2 linked regions of the Homo sapiens genome follow. The protein of the gene in region 1 interacts with the protein of each later gene in a biochemical or structural test. Each region holds a gene or a part of one and is shown in the gene's direction. Other genes may lie near its edges.

Region 1 (7,021 bases):
GGACACATTAATTATAATCATGGAAGATTTTCTGCTTCCCACATGGTTTGCTGGGTTTGGCATAGTATAGCTCATGCCCTACATTGAAGAAATGTGGGCACCCATCAACAGCAGCCATTTCTGATTACACATCCCTGTTTCTTTAGCTGAGTGACTCCTAAAAGTCCCTTAATGTATTAATAATGCATTTGGACCTCAGTTTTCTTACTATGTTAAATGTAATAAAATTGAATATCATATGGTCACTTGCAGAATTAAATGGTATTAAGGCATGTAAATCATATAGAGTGATGTAGTACAACAAACAATAAACCTGTAATAAAAGTCACTAAACTCCCTTCCCTCCCATGATGGAGCCTTAATTTTCTCTATATGAGGCATCCCTGTAGTTTAATATATTCTTAGAATTAGCAATAGGAATATGATGTCAACAATTAATTTTGAGCCATTTTAGCCCAATGACTTATCCTAAGAAGTCGCTATTATTGTTGCCATCCCGTTTTCACTTATACGAAAGTAAGACTCAGGAGGGTTGAGTTTCAGCCTTAGTGTTAGAAAAGCAGTAAGCGGTGAAGCCGGGCTTGGAATCCTGGAAGTTGGAATGTACAATGTGTGATCTCGATGCATCCTCTCTGTAGTGCCTCTTTGTAACAAGAAAAAAATAAAGATACTTAAAGTTCTAGGTAAGCAAAGTCAGAACTAGTCTTTAAGTTAGAGACCCATAAAGTATAAGGTTTCTCAAACAACAAATGTTGTTAGAAGGTCTTGTTGTGGCAGAGTTCCAAGAAAACCAATGAATGTGAAGTCAGTTGATATATTAATCTAATCTGTGTAATTGGGGAGGGGCACTTTTAGGAATGCATTTAGAGATAATCCCATTAACACAGGAGGTTTTCTCCCAGATTAAATTAACGTAAACGACTTTGGAGGAAGGTTGGTTTTCCCAGTTTCTAAGATATAATGCAATAAATTAACATGAAAGATGGTTGGGACTATGTGCAGACTTTTTAAATAAACCTCAGTTTCAGGACTCTGACCTTTTTGTTTCTTCCTAGTAACAGCCGTGGCAGTCAGAGCTCTGCCTGCAGTGTGACCATGGACAGCTCTCCAAAGCTTAAACTTCAGTAAATTGACTCAAGTTTCTTCGGAAAGAACTGTGAGTAGCAAAGGGCAACTTTTTCTGTTGGTTTCATTGGGATTTCACTGCTTTTCCTGAAATTGGAATGTTGGAAGGAAGTAGGCATTCCTCACTGCCTGGGGAGAAATGGGCAAATGAGTAAGGGGAGGGAGCAAATTCAGAGAGATATTTTTTATTTTTTCTGAAACCTGTTTGTGTTTTGAGATGTCTTTCCCTTCATGTTTTTTTTTTTTTCACTCTTCATATTTCCCTTTCTCTGTCTCTCTCCCCACCTCGGTTTTGCTAATTAGCTAGCACAACAACTCGCCATCTTACTCCTTTTCCTTACTCCCTGTTTTTTGTGGGGTTTTTTTTTTGGTTTTCTTTTTTGTTTTTTTTTTGTTTTTGTTTTTGTTTTTTGTTTTTCAGACAGAGCCTTGCTGTGTCTCCCCAGCTGGAGTGCAGTGGCGAGATCTCTGTTCACTGCAACCTCCACCTCCAGGGTTCAAGCGATTCTCCTGCCTCAGCCTCCCCAGTATCTGGCACTATAGGTGCCTGCCACCATGCCCGGCTAATTTTTGTATTTTTAGTAGAGACCAGGTTTCACCATGTTGGCCAGGCTAGTCTCAAACTCCTGACCTCAGGTGATCCACCTGCCTCAGCCTCCCAAAGTGCTGGGATTACAGGTGTGAGCCACCGTGCCCAGACAGAACTTCTTTATTTTTGCCTTAATTTTGTTATTTAACCAGTAGTCATTCAGGAGCATCATATAGAGTGATGTAGTACAACAAACAATAAACCTGTAATAAAAGTCACTAAACTCCCTTTCCTCCCATGATGGAGCCTTAATTTTCTCCATATGAGGTAGTTTAATATATTCCTAGGATTAGCAATAGGAATATGATGTCGACAATTAATTTTGAGCTGTTTTAGCCCAATGACTTATCCTAAGAAGTCGTTATTATTGTTGCAGTCCCATTTTCACTTATGTGAAAGTAAGACTCAGGAGGGTTGAGTTTCAGCCTTAGTGTTACAAAAGCAGTAAGTGGTGAAGCCAGGCTTTCCATGTAGTTGTGTGGTTTTTAGTGAGTTTCTTAATCCTGAGTTATAATTGGATTGCACTGTGGTCTGAGAGCTTGTTTGTTATGATTTCCGTTCTTTTGCATTTGCTGAGGAGTGTTTTACTTCGAATTATGTGGTCAATTTTAAAATAAGTGCTATGTGGTGATGATAATATTGATCTATCTAATATTAACAGGGGGGTGTTAAAGTCTCCCACTATTATTGTGTGGGAGTCTAAGCCTCTTTGTAGGTCTCTAAGAACTTGCTTTATGAATCTGGATGCTCCTGTATTGGGTGCATATATATTTAAGATAGTTAGCTATTCTTGTTGCATTGATCCCTTTACCATTATGTAATGCCCTCTTTGTCTTTTTTGATCTTTGTTGGTTTAACATCTGTTTTATCAGAGACTAGGATTGCAACCCATCCTTTTTTTTGCTTTCCATTTGCTTGGCAAATATTCCTCCATCCCTTTATTTTGAGCCTATGTATGTCTTTGCACATGAGATAGGTCTCCTGAATATAGCACATCAATGGGTCTTGACTCTTTATCCAATTTGCCAGTCTGTATCTTTTAATTGGGGGCATTTAGCCCATTTACATTTAAGGTTAATGTTGTTACGTGTGAATTTGATCCCATCATCATGATGCTAGCTGGTTATTTTGCACATTAGTTGATGCAGTTTCTTCTGTGTCATTGGTCTTTATATTTTGGTGTGTTTTTGCAGTGGCTGGTACCGGCTTTTCCTTTCCATATTTAGTGCTTCCTCCAGGAGCTCTTGTAAGGTAGGCCTGGTGGTGACAAAATCCCTCAGCATTTGCTTGTCTGTAAAGGATTGTATTTTTTCTTCGCTTATGAAGCTTAGTTTGGCTGGATATGAAATTCAGGGTTGAAAATTCCTTAAGAACGTTGAATATTGGCCCCCACTGTCTTCTGGCTTGTAGGGTTTCTGGAGCAATCCACTATTAATCTGATGGGCTTCCCTTTGTGGGTAACCCGACCTTTCTCTCTGGCTGCCCTTAACATTTTTTTCCTTTGTTTCAACCTTGGAGAATCTGACGATTATGTGTCTTGGGGTTGCTCTTCTCGAGGAATATCTTTGTGGTATTCTCTGCATTTCCTGAATTTGAATGTTGGCCTGTCGTTCTAGGTTGGGGAAGTTCTCCTGGATAATATCCCAAAGTGTGTTTTCCAACTTGATTCCATTCTCCCCGTCACTTTCAGGTATACCAATCAATCGTAGGTTTGGTCTTTTCACATAGTCCCATGTTTCTTGGAGCCTTTGTTCATTCCTTTTCATTCTTTTTTCTCTAATCTTGTCTTCACGCCTTATTTCAGTAAGTTGATCTTCAATCTCTGATGTCCTTTATTCTGCTTGATTGATTTGGCTATTGATACTTGTGTATGCTTCACGAAGTTCTCATGCTGTGTTTTTCAGCTCCATCAGGTCATTTATGTTCCTCTCTAAACTGGTTATTCTAGTTAGCAATTCCTGTAGCCTTTTATCAAGGTTCTTAGCTTCCTTGCATTGGGTTAGAACATGCTCCTTTAGCTCAGAGGAGTTTGTTATTACCCACCTTCTGAAGCCTAGTTCTATCAATTCATCAATCTCATTCTCTGTCCAGTTTTGTGTCCTTGCTGAACAGGAGTTGCGATCATTTGGAGAAGAGACATTCTGTTTTTTGGATTTTTCAGCGTTGTTGTGCTGGTTTTTCCTCATCTTTGTGGATTTATCTACCTTTGATCTTTGAGGCTGTTGATCTTTGGATGGGGTTATTGTGTGGGGGTCTTTTTTGTTGATGTTGATGTTGTTGCTTTCTGTTAGTTTTTCTTCTAGCAGTCAGGCCCCTCTTCTGCAGGTCTGCTGCAGTTTGCTGGAGGTCCACTCCAGACCCTTTTCACCTGGGTATCCCCAGCGGAGGCTGCAGAGCTGCAGAACAGCAAAGAGTGCTGCCTGTTCCTTCCTCTGGAAGATTTGTCCCAGAGGGGCACCAGCCTGATGCCAGCCAGAGCTCTCCTGCATGAGGTGTCTCTCAACCCCTGTTGGGAGTTCTTTCCCAGTTAGAAGGCACGGGGGTCAGGGACCCACTTGAGGAGGCAGCCTGTCCCTTAGCAGAGCTGTTGTGCTGTGCTGGGAAAATCCCTCTTATCAGGATCAGCTGCTCTCTTCAGAGCCAGCAGGCAGAAAAGATTAAATCTGCTGAAGCTGTGTGCCCACAGCCACCCCTTCCCCCAGGTGCTCTGTCCCAGGGAGATGGGAATTTTATCTGTAAGCCCCTGACTGGGACTGTTACCCTTTCTTCAGAGATGCCCTGACCAGTGAGGAGGAATCTAGAGAAGCAGTCTGGCCACAGCTGCTTTGCCATGCTGTGGTGAACTTTGCCCAGTCCAAACCTCCCACCCTCCTTAGCACTGTCCAGGGAAAACTCTACTAACGCCTCATTAATCACGGATGCGCCTCCCCCAACCAAGTTCCATCATTCCAGGTCAACTTCAGACTGCTGCACTGGCAGTGAGAATTTCAAGCCAGTGGTTCTTAGCTTGCTGGGCTCCATGGGAGTGGGACCTGCTGAGTGAGATCACTTGGCCCCCTGGCTTCAGCCCCCTTTCCAGGGGAGTGAATGGTTCTGTCTCACTGGGGTTTCAGGCACCACTGGTGTACAAAAAAAAATCAACTCTTGCAACTAGCTCGGTGTCTCCCCGAACAGCTGGCTAGTTTTGTGCTTGAAACCCAGGGCCCTGGTGGTGTAGGCACACAAGGGAATCTCCTGATCTGCAGATTGCAAAAACTGTGGGAAAAGCGTAGTAACCGGGCGAGTAGCATAGTTCTTCACGGCTTCCCTTGGCTGGGGGAGGGAGGTCCCTGGCTCCTTGCATTTCCCAGGTGAGGCAATGCCCCACCCTGCTTCTGCTCGCCCTCCATGGGTTGCACCCACTGCCTAACTAGTCCCGATGTGATGAACTGGGTACCTCAGTTGGAAATGCAGAAATCGCCCACCTTCTGCATTGGTCTCGCTGGGAGCTGCAGAGCGGAGCTGTTCCTATTTGGCCATCTTGGCCCCGCCCCTTTTTTAATTTTAAAAAATTTTATGTAGCGATGAGGTCTCCCTATTTTGCCATGCTGGTTTTGAACTCCTGGGCTCAAGTGATCCTTCCACTTGGCCTCCCAGAGTGCTAAGATTACAGGCGTGAGCCACCATGCCCAACCAAATTTGTATTTTCTCGATGAGCAGTGATGCTGAGCACCTGTTCATATCTCTGTTGGCCATTTGTATATTCTTTCTCGCCTAACAGCTCCCTTGAAAATGCGTGTGCCTCAGTCTATGTCTTCTGGAGAACTGGCACAGCTTCAGAATATTAGCACCCCAAAAGAGTATTTTACTTAGAGCATAAGAAGACTAAAAATAAATCATTATTATATGTGGATGAGGTTTTTCATAAAATATAACTGTTAATATATTCTTGGTTAAAATGCATGTGTGCTTTTCTTCTTTAGGTTACATAAAGAAAGGATGATATCTCTAAAGGTATGTGGATTCATCCAAATTTGGAGCCAGAAGACTGGGATGACTAAGCTGAAAGAAGCTCTCATTGAAACAGTGCAAAGACAAAAGGAAATTAAACTGGTGGTCACTTTCAAATCTGGAAAATTTATAAGAATTTTTCAGCTGAGCAACAACATTAGAAGTGTGGTCCTTAGACATTGTAAAAAAAGACAAAGTCACCTGCGTTTAACTTTGAAAAACAACGTGTTCTTGTTTATTGACAAATTATCCTACAGAGATGCTAAACAGTTGAATATGTTCCTGGACATAATCCACCAAAACAAATCTCAGCAACCCATGAAATCTGATGATGATTGGAGTGTGTTTGAAAGCAGGAATATGCTGAAGGAAATTGACAAAACTTCATTTTACAGCATTTGTAACAAGCCAAGTTATCAGAAGATGCCTTTGTTTATGTCAAAATCACCAACACATGTGAAAAAGGGGATATTAGAAAATCAAGGTGGGAAGGGGCAAAACACACTATCATCTGATGTACAGACAAATGAGGACATTCTGAAGGAAGATAACCCTGTACCAAACAAGAAATATAAGACAGATTCCTTGAAATATATACAAAGCAATAGGAAGAACCCATCAAGTTTAGAGGATTTAGAAAAAGATAGAGATTTGAAACTCGGGCCTTCATTCAATACCAACTGTAATGGAAATCCTAACCTAGATGAGACTGTTCTTGCAACCCAGACTCTCAATGCCAAAAATGGTTTGACATCTCCATTGGAACCAGAGCACAGCCAGGGTGACCCAAGATGCAACAAAGCCCAGGTGCCTCTTGACTCTCATTCACAGCAACTGCAGCAGGGGTTCCCCAATTTGGGAAACACCTGTTACATGAATGCAGTTTTACAATCGCTATTTGCAATTCCATCTTTTGCTGATGACTTACTCACTCAAGGTGTCCCATGGGAATATATTCCCTTTGAGGCTCTTATTATGACCTTGACCCAGCTGCTTGCTTTGAAAGATTTCTGTAGTACAAAGATCAAGAGAGAATTACTTGGGAATGTTAAAAAAGTCATTTCAGCAGTTGCAGAAATATTTTCTGGCAACATGCAGAATGATGCTCATGAGTTTTTAGGTCAGTGTTTAGACCAGCTGAAAGAAGACATGGAAAAATTAAATGCCACTTTGAATACTGGGAAAGAATGTGGGGATGAAAATTCATCTCCACAAATGCATGTTGGTAGTGCTGCCACCAAAGTGTTTGTTTGCCCTGTTGTTGCTAATTTTGAGTTTGAATTGCAGCTCTCCCTTATTTGTAAAGCTTGTGGTCAT
Region 2 (7,425 bases), on another chromosome or scaffold:
TTTGCTTGCCGCCATCCATGTAAGACGTGATCTGCTCCTCCTTGCCTTCCGCCATGATTGGGAGGCCTCCCTAGCCATGTGGAACTGTAAGTCCATTAATTCTCTTTTTCATCCCAGTCTCAGGTATGTCTTTATCAGCAGCGTGAAAACGGACTAATACAGGCATCAAGGCACCCACAGGCTACTCTGGGGAGACTGATGTGTCAGCCCATTAGTGCAATAAGCAGGGAAGCTCTGTCCAGGGAAGAGTATGTCTGGGGGCCCAGAAGGGGTGGGTTAGGTAAGGCTTCAAGGTGATTCAGGCTCTGAACCATGAAAAGAGAGTTCAGAGTTTACCAAGTGGACTGGAAACAGAGTGTTCCAGGCTGAGAGTGGCAGGAGCTGGGACAAGGAAGTGTGGCACAGCTTCCTTGTGGAGAGAAAATTGGAAAAGTGCAAGACAGGCCCAGGGACCAGTTACAGTGGCTTGGTGAGAGAGAAGATGGCTGAGGCAGGACTGGTGGTGGTGAGATCAAGTGACAACACAGGAGGTAGAACTGATGAGCTCCCTAATTTGAGACCAGGTGCTGTATCTCACGCATGTAATCCCAGCACTTTGGGAGGCTTGAACCCAGGAGTTTGAGACCAGCCTAGGCAACATAGCAAGACCCTGTTTCTTCAAACACACACACACACACACACACACACACACACACACACACAAATTAGCCAGGTATGGTGGTGCACACCTGTGGTCCCAGCTACTTGGGAGGCTGAGGCAGGAGGATGGCTTGAGCATGGGAGTTCGAGGCTGCAGTGAGCTATGATCATGCCACTGCACTCCAGCCTGGGTGACAGAGGGAGACCCTGTTTCTAAAAAAGAAAAACAAAGATCTAATTTGGGACCATGAGTGGCACTCACTTGCCATGTCCTGTTAGCCTGGTCCCTGGATGCCTGTGTGAAGGGAGACAGCCTCATAAACCAGTCCACTGGCCTGGAACTCATGCCCTAGCAAGAAGTGCACTTCTGTTGTATTTGAGCCATTACATTTGGAATCTATTGGTCATTGCAGCAGAACTTACCTTCATTAATATAGCCTCTCCCTAGCTGGGAACACTATACCAAATCATGTGTTGGGGGAGAGAGGAAGAAACGAGGATATTCCTCTCTTCTTTGAAGCTTACAAATTTCGTTGGAACTACGTATGGAAAAGGAGAACATTTACCAGGCTCTTCAGATCTAAGAGTTGCCTGTTCTTCGAGTGGGCATACTGCCTCTGTTTCTCTGGGCTCCTGAGATGACCCAGTACCTTGGAGCTCCTCCAGCCCTGGGAGCCAGCAGAAAAGCCACCTGTTGTCTGTAAGGAAGTACCCACAGGCCTGGCTGAGCTCATTACAGCAGAGAGCCAGCAACGCTTCCTCCTCTTAGATTCCGTCATGTTAGACAATCTGCCTGCTCTCCCCACTAACCGTCAAAGTTCCATGGAATGAACTTGCCACTTTTTCAGGATCCTAACCACCGCACTTTCCTGCTACCTCTGGCACTTGGAATTTCAGAGACAAAACCCCTTTTTTAGGCAGCGAGCCCTGATTTTCAGTTCCAAAGCTATGGGCACTGCTGAGTGGGACCAGAGGAGTGGTGTGCAGTGAGCTACCTGGAGGGGTTGCATGAGACCATGTCCCCTCTCCTGGATGGAGGTGTCTTCTGGTTGCCAAGAAAGTATTGAGTGATAATCAGAAAAATTCCTTGATTTTCATGGTTTGTTGCTTTGTAGCAGGTCTTAAGGAAAAAAAAAAAGTTTTTCATGGTTTGGGACAGGTCCTTAGAGATGGGCCACACCAGCCCTGGCACACCTGAGCCCAGTGTTGGGCCACCTCACACCTCTCTCGCCTCTCTTCCAGCTTTATCTTTGTCCTGCTCTTTCTGGAGTCCTTTCCTTGCATCCTGCCAGCTGGCATCCCCTTCATCCTTGCACGCCTACCTTCTACACAAAGCCTTCCATGACCATCCCAAGCCTCAGGGCTGATTCCGTGCAGTGGGCAGGCTGTAGCCTCTCTGTTCACCTCTCTGTGTCACATCTTACTGGGTACATGCCCAGTAAATTCCCCACAACTGAGATTCTGCTTTGCCTGAGCAGTGCCCTCTGGCTCCTTAGGGATGATGCTTGCTGAGGGGTTTCCTGGCTTTAAGGTCATGGTTCAGGCTGGGCTCAGTGGCTCACACCTGTAATCCCAGCACTTTGGGAGGCCGAGGTGGGCAGATCACTTGAGGCCAGGAGTTTGAGACTAGCCTGGCCAACATGGTGAAACCCCGTTTCTACTATAGCCGGGTGTGGTGGCAGGTGCCTGTAATTCCAGCTGCTTGGGAGGCTGAGGCATGAGAATCGCTTGAGCCTGGAAGGTGGAGGCTTCAGTGAGCCGAGAGCATGCCACTGCACTCCAGCCTAAGCGACAGAGCCAGATTCGTCCCCCTACCCCCCAAAAAGGGGTCATGGTTCAGACCTCCATTGTAGGCCCACCCCCTTGCTTTACTAGCTGAGGGACCTTGCCTAAATTCTTTAGCCTCTAGGAGCCTAAATTTCCTTATCTGCAAAATGGAGATTAATAAAACTTACCTTGCAGGACCTTTGTGAAAAAAACAAAAACAAACAAAAAAACTTGAGAAGTCATTCAAAGCACTTAGTTCGTGATCAATAAATATTAGCTTATTGTTTTTCTAAGACGATGAGTAGGATTTTTCATCAAAAATAAATCATTCTGGTTGCCTTGGGCAAAATAATCTGCAATATAAAATATCTATAATAAATGGCTGCTGTGTATTCATTGCTACTGTGTGCCAGGCACCATGTTAAAACACTTTATAAAAATGATCTCATTGAGGCCTTTCCACAACTCTTTTTTTCTTTTTTTAGAGATGGAGTTTCGCTCTTGTTGCCCAGGCTGGAGTGCAATGGCATGACCTCCGCTCACTGCAACCTCTGCCTTCCTGGTTCAAGTGAATCTCCTGCCTCAGCCTCCTGAGTAGTTGGGACTACAGGCATGTGCCACCATGCCAGGCTAATTTTTTGTAGAGACAGTGTTTTACCATGTTTGCCAGGCTGGTCTCGAACTCCTGACCTCAGGTGATCCACCCACCTCGGCCTCCCAAAGTGCTCGGATTACAGACGTGAGCCACCGTGCCTGGCCCTTATCCACAACTCTTAAAGTAGGTGCTAATATTTGCAGTAAGTAGATGGAGATGGCTTATCTTTCGCTGAGTTAGCTTGGTCTGATTTGAGCTGGCAATACACTGCCTTCCAGGTCATTGTCCTGCCTGTGGGTCTTTGCACATCCAGACCACACTTCCTTCCTCTTTACCTAAATCTACCTCTTTCTCATCCTTGGAGAGAAGTATTTGCACCCTTCCTTTGCCCTCAGTCTTTCTTTTTTATTTTTTCATTTCATTTCATTTATTATTATTATTATTATTATTTTTTTTTTGAGACAGAATCTCACAGTCACCTAGGCTGGAGTGCAGTGGAATGATCATGGTTCACTGTAGCCTCAAACTCCTGGGCTCAAGCAATCCTCCCACCTCAGCTTCCCGAGAAGCTGGGACTACAGGTGTGCACCAACAAGCCCGGCTAATTTTTGTAGGTCTCGCTATGTTGCCCAGGCTGGTCTCCAACTCCTGGGCTCAAACGATCCTCCCGCCTTGGCCTCCCTAAGTGCTGGGACTGTAGGCATGAGCCACCGTGCCTGGCCATGCCCAATCTTTCTTACTGCAGTTGGTGATACATGGTTTTTGTTTTCTCTATACATGTATTTTTTGGTGGTGTGTTTAATATCTGTCTTTTCCCAGACTGTCGCCTCCGTGAAAGCAGGAACCTTGTCAGTTTTCTCTCCAAGTTATCCCTCCAACGCCTAGCACAGTGCCTGGCAAATGTAGGAGCTCAACAGGGTTTGCGGAATTATTATGTGTATGTCTGAAGGAAGGATGTTGGCAGTGCGCCCAACGTGTGAGGGGAACCCCACTCTCCAAGGTTCCAGTGGCTTTAAAGGTGTCCTCGAGAAAATCAGAGGAACAGGGGGATGCTTGTTTTCCTTCCTTCCTTCTCTCTCTCTCTCTCTCTCTCTCTCTCTCTCTCTCTCTCTCTCTCTCTCTCTCTCTCTTTTTTGCTTTAAAGTATGCTGAAAGGACACTTTAAACCAAGTCTGAATGGCTCGGCAGGACTGGGGCGCGGGTGCTGGCAGGAGCCGGAGAGGCGACATCTGGCCATGGGAGCATTTGTTTCAAAGTTCAAGGCCGTTCGCTCAGGGTCAAGGTTAGTCCGGCGGGCCGTTCGGAGACCAGCCCCAGCGTGCCAGGACCGTTTCCGGGGCCTGGCCGGGGCGTTGCCGCGGGGTCGGGGACCAGCACGAGTGCTGAGTCACGCCCCGCCCGGGAGCGCCTCGGGTCAGTAACTCGGGAAGACGACCAAGCGGGAGCGGGAGCGGGAGCGGGAGCCGGAGCGAGAGCGCGCGGGCGCGGCCGACAGGTGAGATCGCGCCGCCAGGCGGGCTCTCGAGACCCCGGGCGCCCCGGGCGGGACCGGGACCCGGAAGAGGGGCGAGCGGATTAGAGGCCTGGCTCACGCCGCGTCTGGCGTGGGGAGGTCGGTGCGCGCAGTTGTGGCGCTGCGAGGAGAGGGATACTCGACTCAGGCCCGCCCCTCTCTGTCTCCCCCAAAAAACGCAACAGGGAGATGTGCTCCTGGCCGAGGGCAAAGAAAACTCCACCCTCCTGGTTTGGCCCCTAAATCCCTGCTAAGTTTTCCTAAGGAAGATGGGCTTAGGCCGGGAAGGGCGAACCGGGGAAGAGGGAACACGGGGCGGGTGTAACCCGGATCTTGCGAGGACCGTCCGAGGGTCCGCTGGGTAGAAGCGGCCGGTCCGGACAGAAGCAGGTGTGAGAGGAAAGGGAGAAACCTCAGTCTCTAAGAGGAAAGAAACTGGAGTCAACCCAGTGCCCATAGGCTCGGGGGAGCTGGGGGGTGCAGCACTAGGAAGTCTGCTTCTCCCTTCCCGAAGCCCTGGGTGCTGCAGGGACAAAGACCAGCGGTGAGTAAACTAACTCTGATGGGACGCGTGCAGTCCACCTGGAACTGAATTAGTGGCCTATATTGGGGCTCTCCTTCCAACACCACCTGATCAACACACCCTACCTTTCCCTACAAGGAGAGTCTTTTTGACCCTGGAATTTAAGGTGAGGATGGGGAGTGGTGAGGTCTCTTGGGGGCTGATGATCCTGTAGGAGGACAGGCATAGGGCAGAGAGTCAGATATAGTTTGGGATGGGACTTGCAGGTTTCTGGACTGTGCACCTGTGTTCAAAAGCCTGTATCAGGTTCCAGTGTGCGTGCATGCACCTGCCAGAGAGCCCCGGGATCTCAGATCACACCTGCCCTCACCCCAGCACCTAGAGAGGAGTTCTCCAAGGAGCACAGTGTGTCACCAAGAAGAGGGCACTGAGCCCCAGCCAGGGTGGGCTGGGCAGGCTTAGCACTACCTAGCCCAGAAGTGATGGGCTGGGCAGGCCGGTGGACTCCAGGGCCAGCCTGACTTTTGTCTGGTGGCCAAATGAAGCCAGCGTCCAGGTACAGGTGGTGGGCAGACCATGGGGACCACAAAACTGGCTCTGAGGAGGATGGACAAATTGCTTGGCCTAGGTTTTCTGTGCGGGAGTGAATATGACATCCAGATGAACCTGTCTGCCCCAGAGCTGCCCTCCCCTGGGGATAAAAGGAGGCTGCCTCCCTTAGACTTTGAGTCCCTTTTCAGAAACTGGTCTTTTGGGGGTTCTGTTCTTCAAGTAGTCCCTGAGGGGCTGGCCATGGAGTGTCCCAGGAAGGGAGGCCGCCCAACCGTCTCCATCCTGCTGTGTCCCGCAGGTGGAGGAAACCTCCATGGTGCTGTGAGTCGTGCTGTAGTGGCCTTCTTATCCGGGACGGCCACTCTGGGAATGTGGCTCTCCAGAGGCTGATGTTGAAACCTACCCTTTGTGTGAGCCATGACGACTCAAAAAGCATCGTGTTTTATTTGTAATATTTGTGAAGCAATACTGGAGCAACTCTGGGATGACATTCTTGCTTTGATCAGAGCCCACACGGTTCCTGCTGTGTGTCTTCTGAGGCACAACCTCTGAACAGCTTTGGCATAAATGTAACTTCCTGGTTTTTCAGTAGTCCTATGGGCTGCTTATTGTGGAATAATACCCTTGAGATCAGGGTGGATGCTCTTGGCAGAGAAAACAGGATTGACTGAGCAAATTTTTGTGTAAATCAGATTGTGTGTGTGTGTGTCTGTGTGTATGTGTGTTGTGGCAGGGAGCAAAGGTAAAGTTACTGAGGGGTTCCTGGACAATCAGGGTTTGTTCCGCTCTCTTAGGCCTTCTTTTAAGCTAACATTCTTGAACCTAGACAGACATAGTTAAGATTCTCTGTGATTCCCACTGGGGCTTTGGTGTTCAGTTCAAAATCAGATGGTGGATTTAGCAGTTCCTCAAAAAGTTAAACTTCAAGTTACCATATGACCCAGCAATTCCATACCTAAATATATACTAAAGAGGACTGAAGACTGGTTCACACAAAAACCTGTACACAAATGTTCATAGTGGCGTTATTCACATAGTCAAAAGGTGGAAACAACCCAAGTGCCCGTCAGCTGATGAGTGGATAAACAAAATGTGGTCTATTCATACACCAGTAATGGACTGTTTTTCAGCCAGGAAAAGGAATGAAGCACTGATAACATGCTACAACTCGGATGAACCTTGAAAACATGATGATCAGTGGAAGACGTCGCAAACAAAAAGCCACATAGTGTATAATTCCATCTACATGAATTGTCTAGAACAGACAAATCTATAGAGACAGAAAGAACATTAGTAGCTACCCAGGGCTAGGGTAGGTGGGGTACAGGATTTATTTTGGGGGTGATGGAAGTGTTCTGGAATTAGATAGTTGTGATGGTTGCACAACCTGGTGAATACACTAAAACCCACTGAACTTACATCTTTTTTTGAAATTTAAATTAAAAAAAATTTTTTTTTGAGACAGAGTCTTGCTCTGGCGCCCAGGCTAGAGTGCAGTGGCATGATCATGCCTCACTGCAACCTCGACCTCCTAGGCTCAAGCGATCCTCCCACCTCAGCCTCCTGATATCAGGGACCACAGGCATGTGCCACCATGCCTGGCTAATTTTTGTATTTTTTGTAGAGATGGGGTTTCACCATATTGCCCAGGCTGGTCTGGAACTCCGGAGCTCAAGCAATCTGCCTGCATTGGCCTCCCAAAGTGTTGGGATTAGAGGTGTGAGTCAGCCTACATCTCATTTTTTTTTTTTAAAAGATGGGGTCTCATCTAGGCTGGAGTGCAGTGGTGCAATCATAGCTCACTGTGAACTTACATCTTAAGTGGTAAATTGTATA

What was found. Proteins that work in one complex are often made in the same cells at the same time.
Region 2: of the proteins of USP29 (region 1) and AIFM2, one has a biochemical effect on the other in vitro, tested with the Homo sapiens proteins (one study listed by BioGRID).

The regions. Positions count from the first base shown.
Region 1 is NC_000019.10:57,122,984-57,130,004, forward strand, and holds part of USP29 (ubiquitin carboxyl-terminal hydrolase 29), read left to right. Parts: intron 1-1,055; 5' UTR 1,056-1,156; intron 1,157-5,676; 5' UTR 5,677-5,692; coding exon 5,693-7,021.
Region 2 is NC_000010.11:70,129,805-70,137,229, reverse strand, and holds the start of AIFM2 (ferroptosis suppressor protein 1), read left to right. Parts: upstream 1-4,404; 5' UTR 4,405-4,496; intron 4,497-7,425. UniProt on the Homo sapiens protein: A NAD(P)H-dependent oxidoreductase that acts as a key inhibitor of ferroptosis.